Regions from separate parts of the Homo sapiens genome. Here regions 1 and 3 are each linked to region 2. Evidence: fine-mapped expression QTL. A gene starts in region 2. Each other region holds a variant in brackets. All regions are shown on one strand. Distances are from middle to middle. Region 1 holds the start of MIR6868 (microRNA 6868). Region 2 holds the start of SNHG16 (small nucleolar RNA host gene 16). Region 3 overlaps RHBDF2 (rhomboid 5 homolog 2).

The links. PIP is the estimated chance that this variant, and not a neighbour inherited with it, causes the effect.
Region 1: its variant is fine-mapped to the expression of SNHG16 in spleen (GTEx, PIP 0.96).
Region 3: its variant is fine-mapped to the expression of SNHG16 in whole blood (INTERVAL, PIP 0.97).

What each region holds. Positions count from the first base shown.
Region 1 is chr17:76,097,119-76,099,913 of GRCh38, reverse strand. It overlaps EXOC7 (exocyst complex component 7), which reads left to right. Exons shown (of 19, transcript NM_001013839.4): 5 at 1,896-2,118. MIR6868 (microRNA 6868) reads left to right here and starts at 1,838; the gene lies at 1,838-1,895. The variant A/G (reference allele first, on the strand shown) is at 1,419.
Region 2 is chr17:76,556,492-76,559,160 of GRCh38, reverse strand. SNHG16 (small nucleolar RNA host gene 16) reads right to left here and starts at 1,397. Exons shown (of 3, transcript NR_038111.1): 1 at 1,304-1,397. SNORD1C (small nucleolar RNA, C/D box 1C) reads right to left here and starts at 371; the gene lies at 292-371. RefSeq lists enhancers at 175-976, 1,317-1,576, 977-1,777, 2,267-2,366.
Region 3 is chr17:76,493,081-76,495,875 of GRCh38, reverse strand. All of the region lies in intron 1 of RHBDF2 (rhomboid 5 homolog 2), which reads left to right. Among named protein-coding and RNA genes, the nearest start is that of RHBDF2, 6.9 kb to the left of the region's middle. The variant C/G (reference allele first, on the strand shown) is at 1,366.

The DNA.
Region 1 (2,795 bases), 460 kb after region 2:
TCAGGCTGGTCTCAAACTACTGTCCTCAGGTGATCCTCCCACCTTGGCCTCTCAAAGTGTTGGGAGGGATTACGGGCATTACCCACTGTACCTGCCTTCATCATATTTTTGTGTTTAAGTTTTGGGGTCATTAGATCATCAGAGCAAGATGGTGACTTGGCCTCTGGAAATCACAAATCTATTTTCTGTCTTTATGGATTTGCCTATTCTGAATTTCTAATATAAATGGTATCTTATAATACATGGCCTTTTGTGACTGGCCTCTTTCACTTAGCGTGATGCTTTCAAGATCAATCCATGCTATAGCATGTATCAGTACTTCATTTCATTTTCATGCCATATGATATTCCTTTTTGTGGATAGACCACAGTTTCTTTTTTTGGTTTTTTGTTTTGTTTTGTTTTTTGAGACGGAGTTATGCTCTTGTTGCCCGGGCTGGAGTACAATGGCGCAATCTTGGCTCACTGCAACCTCCACCTCCTGGGTTCAAGCGATTCTCCTGTCCCAGCCTCCCGAGTAGCTGGGATTATAGGTGCCTGCCACCACACCGAGCTAATTTTTTGTATTTTTAGTAGAAACGGGGTTTCACCATGTTGGCCAGGCTGGTCTTGAACTCCTGACCTCAGGTGATCTGCTTGCCTCGGCCTCCCAAAGTGCTGGGATTACAGGCGTAAGCCACCGTGCCCAGCCAGACCACATTTTCTTTAGCCATTTATCCTTTGATGGACACTTGGGTTGTTTCCAATTTTTGTCTCTTGTGAATAATGCTGCTATAAACCCTCTTATATATGTCATCGTGTGGACAGATTCATTCTCTTTTATGTTTGGGATACCTGTCTTTTATCAGATACATAGTTTACAAATATTTTCTCTCATTCTGTGGGTTATCCTCACTTTGTTGGTGGTATCATTTGCAGCACAAAAGTTTTCAACTTGATATTGTTCAATTTATTTATTTATTTTCTTTTGCAAACCCCCCACTAACAAGAAGACAAATTAACGGTTCAGTGAGAAAATAATCGGCCAGTATTTTTTTTTTTTTTTTTTTGAGACGGAGTCTCACTCTGTTACCCAGGCTGGAGTGCAGTGACGCAATCTTGGCTCACTGCAAGCTCCGCCTCCTGGGTTCACACCTTTCTCCTGCCTCAGCCTCCCGAGTAGCTGGGACTACAGGTGCCCACCACCACGCCCGGCTAATTTTTTTTTTTGTATTTTTAGTAGAGATGGAGTTTCACCTTGTTAGCCAGGATGGTCTCGATCTCCTGACCTTGTGATCTGCCCGCCTCGGCCTCCCAAAGTGCTGGGATTACAGGCGTGAGCCACCGTGCACGGCCAATCAGCCAGTATTTATTAAGCACCTACTTCTTGTAAAACCCTGGGTTTTACCTGTAAACACAAATTTTGAGAGAACATGAAGT[A/G]AAGGAGTCACCAAGGCCGCTTCCCAGCGTTTCTTCTTTGGGTTAAAGGATATCAGGGCAGGCCAGGTGCAGTGGCTCATGCCTGTAATCCCAGCACTTTGGGAGGCTGAGGCGGGTGGATCACCTGAGGTCAGGAGATCAAGACCATCCTGCCAACATGGTGAAACCCCGTCTCTACTAAAAATACAAAAATTATCTGGGCATGGTGGCACGTGCCTGTAATCCCAGCTGCTCAGGAGGCTGAGGCAGGAGAATTGCTTGAACCAGGAAGTCGGAGGTTGCAGTGAGCCAAGATTGTGTCACTGCACTCCAGCCTGGTGACAGAGCGAGACTCCCTCTCAAAAAAAAAAAAGATATCAGGGCAGAAAAGGGCAGAGGCCCTGAGTTAAGAAGACAGAGCTGGCACAGGCAGGGGAAGGCCAGGACTGGCAGAACACTGAAGCAGCAGGCACCTGCTTCCTTCTGTTGTCTGTGCAGAAACTGCTCTTTGAGCGCGGGAAGGAGGCCCTGGAGTCCGAATTTCGCAGCCTGATGACGCGGCACAGTAAGGTCGTCTCGCCCGTGCTCATCTTGGATCTGATCAGTGGTGACGATGATCTGGAGGCCCAGGAGGACGTGACCCTGGAGCACCTGCCCGAGAGCGTGCTCCAGGATGTCATTCGCATCTCCCGCTGGCTGGTGGAATATGGCCGCAACCAAGGTAAGGGATTCTGGCTTGGCCACATGACACACCAGAGGCAGAGGGAGTTTTCTCCCCTTTGTTCTTTTTTTTTTTTTTTTTTTTTTTTTTTTGAGATGGAGTCTTGCTCTGTTGCCCATGCTGGAGTGCAATGGTGCAACTCGGCTTGCTGCAGCCTCTGCATACCCGGGTTCCAGCGATTCTCCTGCCTCAGCCTCCCGAGTAGCTGGGATTACTGGCGCATGCCACCATGCCTGGCTAAGTTTTGTATTGTTAGTAGAGATGGGGTTTCACCATGTTGGCCAGGCTGGTCTTGAACTTCTGACCTCAGGTGATCTGCCCACCTCAGCCTCCCAAAGTGCTGGGATTACAGATGTGAGCCACCATGCCTGGCCCCCTTTATTCTTTAATCCACCTGTCATGGTTTTTTTGATAAAAGGATGTTTAACTGGAACCAATATAAGAATATAAGCAACCATTCTATGACTTGTATATCAAGTGGTGAATCTAGGCAAATTCAAACTTTTCTTGTCTTGATTTTTATGTTCCTTTGCCTTTTTTGATTAGTTGTAAAATTTTCAAAGCCATGGGTGAAAAGTAAAAGTCCATCTCCCATTCCCTGATGCCTCCATTACATAAGCCAAAGATGAGCACTATTAAGGTTTATTTATGCCAGGTGCTGTGGCTATGCCTGTAAT
Region 2 (2,669 bases):
TTCCATTATCTGGGCAATCGTAACCCTGGAAGACCAACACATCCCCAAAACTAACAAACCAATACTTAAAGAGGACCATAAGCATATTCAAGTCTATGAAAGTACTAAAAATCTCACCATTTACAGAAATTTCATCATGAAGATCCTTACACTTAACACCTTAAGGTGATGAGTTTTCACATGACTGTTTTCAAGGCCACAGCCACCACCTTTAATCTAAAAGAGAAGGATAACAGGCTTCATTCTAACAGAAACCACCTTAAGGTTTATTCTCCAGATTTGTATTAAACAGCTGAGCCTCAGCAAGTCAGACCTCCTCACAAAAGATACCATTTCAGACAGGGATAACTTTAAATCATCCTCAGCTCAGCCAATAACAAAGATTCCTAAATCCTAGCGATCCAAAATTCATTTGCCATGTCTCTTTCATCCCTGCATGCCCTAACGAGGATCCACGCTGGTTACAATGACACCTAGTGGCCCCAAATCACACGGGCAAAGACGCTACTCATTTTTATCATTAAAATAATTAGCATTCTGAATTTTGAGTAATTTCTTACCATAGCTGGCTTGTATGTCAACACGTATTCTCATACTTGAACTTCAGAATAAAGCAGGAGGTGAATGTATGTGATGGCACCAACTGTGCTTTCTCATTTCTAGTGACCACTCAGGCCCTGCCTGCACCCACTCTTACTCATGTTAAGGGCTCCATCTATTACTCTGATCCTTCAACCTGGAGCTCTGCTTTTCACCGTCTCTGCAGATGCCAAACAAAGAAAGGCCTCTGGGGGAGGAAAAAAGGCTCGTTGTTAAAACTACGGCTTTCCAGAAGTTTACAATCCTATTGACTCCTATCTGTAAAGCTAAATATGAACTACCGATTGGGGCCGTCCTCAAGACACTCCAAGCGGAATCACGTCTTCACACGTTAACACTCCTGATGCTGAATTAAGAACCACCATCGTCAGAGTCTGCCCGTGCGCGGGCACCGAAGACCCCTGGGCATGACGCTCAGCACACGCGCGGCGGAGGCGCACGGGGCTGCCCAGGTTGTTAGGCGCTCTCCCCCGCAGAAGCCGGCCCTATGACGCCGAGGACGGGCTTGAGCTCTCTCCCTTCACATAGTAACATTTTCTCAACGTTTGGAAAGCATTTTCTCATCCAGTACTTTTAACCCTCCTAACCACCCTATGAGGGAGAAACCGAGATTATCGTCACCACTTCGTCTCTGAGGAAGGGAAGCCAAGTATGTTAGTGTCGTGTCAAGGAAGACCCCGTTTTCCCACCCAGGCAGCCTTACCATCATCACTAAAGGCCTGAGACTGCTCGCCGTGCTCAACACCGACTGGAGTGGCCATGTCTTCCAGCCACGCGGCCGACCTCGAAAAGAACGCGAGACCGCCCCTGCGCGCAAGTCTTCTCGGCAATCTCTCCGGAACTCTCGCGATGTTGAGAAAGGGCTGGTGGGAAATGTAGTTCAAAACTACGGCGGCTGGGGGCTGGCCGCGTCCTCAGCGCGACCCTGGAGCTGGGGGTAAGATGGTGGCCGCCACCAGGGGCAGTGGAGGGTCCGGAGTGGGAAACCAGGCCTGTGAAGAACCACGGCTGTCAGAAAACGAAGCTGGAGGTTCACTTCTGCCAGAAAGTCATTGAGCTTCAACACAGTTTGTCCCTGGTCGAGACTGGGGAAGCACAGAAAGTTCGAGGGGGCAGGGACAGATGAGGAAACCGGGGCTTGGCCGAGTATCTTTGTTAATTGCTCTGCGGATTTTATTTGGGGGAGGATAGGGGCATTTGGGGTGGTTCGCTGGGTTAGTGAAGAGGAGAGATTCCGAGGGAATCGTTCAACCTCCTGCTCAGGTGTTTTTAAGTTTGGGGCGAGGCCGGTGAAGCCGAGGCGCGGGCGGCAAGGAGCGCTGGAGAGCGACGGGGCTCGGCCTCCGCGGCTGCCCAGGGGCCCGGGGCATTCCGAGAAGAGAAAAAAAGGCAAGTGTCACGAGCTGAATTACGAAAAGAACGGAGAATGATGTAACACCCACTGCTCTTCTGAGTGTTATTTTTCAGGCAAACACCTTGGCTTCATTTTTTTTTGTTTCTGGGTTTTTTTGGTTTGTTTTTGAGATAAGGTTTCACCCTGGCACGCAGGCTGGAGTGCAGTGGTGCAATCATAACTTATTGTAGCCTGGACCTCCCGGGCTCAAGTGATCCTCCCGCCTCAGCCTCCTGAGTGGCCGGGACGACAGGCGAGCGCCACCACGCCCAGCTGATTATTTTTATTTTGCAGAGATGAGGTCTCACTATGTTGCCCGGGTTGGTCTCAAACTCCTGGCCTCAAGCAGTCCTCCTGTTTTGGCCTCCCAAAGTGCTGGGATTACAAAGGTGAGCCACTGCGCCCGGTCTGGCTTCGTTTTTGAAATAAAAATAAGGCAAAAACGACATCAACAATCAGGGCCAGAATTTGCACCTATTTGAAAGCTAGTTTAAGTTTGCAAGACCGAGAGCCTTTTCTCCATTCCAGTCTCCCTGTTCTCATCCACCCATTAACAGTGATCTCTGTGGCCTTCGGTGTGGGTTATATTGTCCTGCAGATGGTAATATGTTGCAGATACTTATCTTCAAATTACCACATTTGCTTATGTTTACCTCCTTTCATTTGATTGTAAGCT
Region 3 (2,795 bases), 63 kb after region 2:
GGAAGCAGGGAGCCCCAGGGCAACGTTCTGGGAAATCAGGTTTATTAGTTCCTTAATGACCGTTTACAAGCTCAGAAGTGTCTGCCTGGCATTTTCCCTCCCTGCTGAGGGGCTCCATGCAGCCGGAGGCAGAACTGGGCCTCCAGAAGCGCTCTGAGTGTGTCGAGGTGAGGGCCCAGGGATGCCGTCGGCTCCCTGGGCTCTGCATGCTCACACCCAGCCAGTCCAGGCCTATTTCTGGCTGGGTGGCACTGGGCAAGGTGCTTACCTCTCTGTACAATAGGTGAGACCTTGTACCTCAGCTGAGCTGTTCCTGGGGTGAGCCCTCGTTCATGGTGACAAAGTCACATAGATCTTAGACCCTGGGAGGATACTAGCATCTTATGCATACACAAACTGAGGCTCAGAGATGTTAAGTGGCTTGCCCAAGATCGCACAGTGGTTAGAGATGGGCCTGTGACCCTGTCTTCTGCCATCGGGACAGATTTTCACTGTCTGGAGGCAGGTGGAAACCGGGTGGGCTCCTACTTTGTAAGCACAGGACAGTGCCCTGTCTGTGTACATGGGACAGTCACAAACGGAAATGGCCTGGTCACACCTTAGTGTCAAGGAGCCTCCAGCAGGAGTGAAACGGACCTCTCACACAGACCCCAGGCTGCATCTCATCCTGCCCCAACCGCTGGGCTTGTGCTGGACCACCACTGCTTCCAAGGACCCGTGAAAACCCGGCTGCCGGGATGCAGAGAGGCAGACTTTCATGAACGTTTGCAGCAAAGGGCAGTTCCCACCGAGCCTGTGTTGCTGTGGCACTGTGTGGTGCACACCCCACCCCGGAAACCCTCCAGTGTCCTGGTGTCTGACCCCAAATGGACAGGGCCTTTTGGCCCCCAGGGGCCACTTCTGACTCCTCCCCTTCACAACGATGCTGAGGGAGCAGGAGAACTGGGGCCCGGCTGCTGTGCGTGCCCCCTTCCCTTCATTGCCCCAAAGCCTGCAGTCCAGCCCCAGGCTCGGGAGCTGCTGCCTCTTCCCTGGGATGTGGAAGGCACCTGCATCCCCGCCCAGCTGCTGCCACTTGCCTGCCTCCATCAGCAGCTTTGTTTTATTTTGTCTGTGTGTTTTTTGAGATGGAGTCTTGCTCTGTCGCCCAGGCTGGAGTGCAGTGGCGTGATCTCGGCTCACTTCAACCTCCGCCTCCCAGGTTCAAGCGATTCTTCTGCCTCAGCCTCCTCAGTAGCTGGGATTACAGGCACCCGCCACCATGCCTGGCTAATTTTTGTATTTTTAGTAGAGATGGGGTTTCACCATGTTGGCCAGGCTAGTCTAGAACTCCTGACCTCAGGTGATCTGCCCACCTCAGCCTCC[C/G]AAAGTGCTGGGATTACAGGTGTGAGCCACTGTGCCCAGCCTCCACCAGCAGCTTTTGAAATCCAGAAATTTCCAGGGGAGGGCACTGTGGTGGGTGGGGCCCAGCGCTGTGTCCAGCTCGAGGCCTGGCTGCACTGCCACCTCCTTTGGTGCCCACCCCTGTGTCTTGCCAGCAGCTGCTGCACATTGGGCTTCGGGGATGCAGGACTCCAGCACCCCCAGCTCAGCCTGCTTCCTGGACCAGGAACCCCAGCCGAGGAGGGGGCATTTGTATCTCTGCCATCCCTGCTGGCAACTGGTCCTGAGAAAGCCCAGATGGTTGGTGCAGAGGGGGCGTCAGGGGCTGCACCACCCTAAGAACATGACATGTCACCCCCCAGCCCCCCGCAACACACACACACAGGTTCACACCTCACACCCCTGATCTTGGCGGCTCCCTGGAGCACAGCACCCGCTTCCCGTGTCTGTGGTTGGCTTATGACGCCCCAGCCACTCTAACCGGGTTAAGGGGAGCCCAGAGCCTGGGGCCGGATAGGAAAAAGCCCAGAGAAGTCAGGGGATGGTCAGTCCCCTGAAGCTGCCCCTGGGGGTTCTTGATCTTCTGAACTGAGTTCGAGGCAAGCCCTGGAGGGGCGAGGAGGAGAAAGAAACAGCTCTCTGGGCCAGGACCCGCTGTTCGTGGGATGTCTGGGGAGCTGTGTGAACCCACAGGCCGTTTTGTTTCTCTCCATCAGCAGCTGTGGGCTGAAGCGTGTACCGGCGGAGTGGGTTGAGATCGTGTCTGCGCCCACTTGCCACCAGCTCCGGCCTCTGGGGAGGTGGTGCTGAGAGGGAGGGAGAGTGGCTCCTGTTTGGCTCCTGGAGACAGACAGCTGGGTGTCCCACCCTCAGAGTCCCCAGCCCCCTCTCCCCTCTGCTAACTCTGCCGGTGGAGCTCACGCCGCAGCTCATGCCAACCCTGCCCTTCTGTTTTGCCTCTCATGACTCTCCCCAAATTCTGCCCCCAGGCCCCCAGCCAGCCTTCTTGCCACTTTCCTGCCCTTTACTCTTGCCCCTTCTACCTCTTGCCAGGGCAGCGTCACTGGCTACGTGAGGCCCAGCTTGGGGATGCATGGGGAGGTGTAAGAACAGCTGTGCCATGAGCTGTCCTTCCGGGCCTCTGGGGCTGGAGAAACCCCGGGGTCAGCAGTACCACGGGTTTTGCTGGGGATTGCACAGTGGGTGAGGCTCAGCTTCCTCTTTGCAGCTTTCTAAAAATGCCCTGGTTCCCAGCAGGGCCACAGGCAGGGAAAATGAGTTTCAGTTTCTGTGGCAAGGGAGCTGGGGAGAGAAGCAGTTTCCTTGTCCCCAGCCCTCACCCTAGCATCCTGTGATTCAGCCGCGAAGACGTGGCCCCAAGCCTCCCACCGCCCTCCTTCTGTCCTGACTGC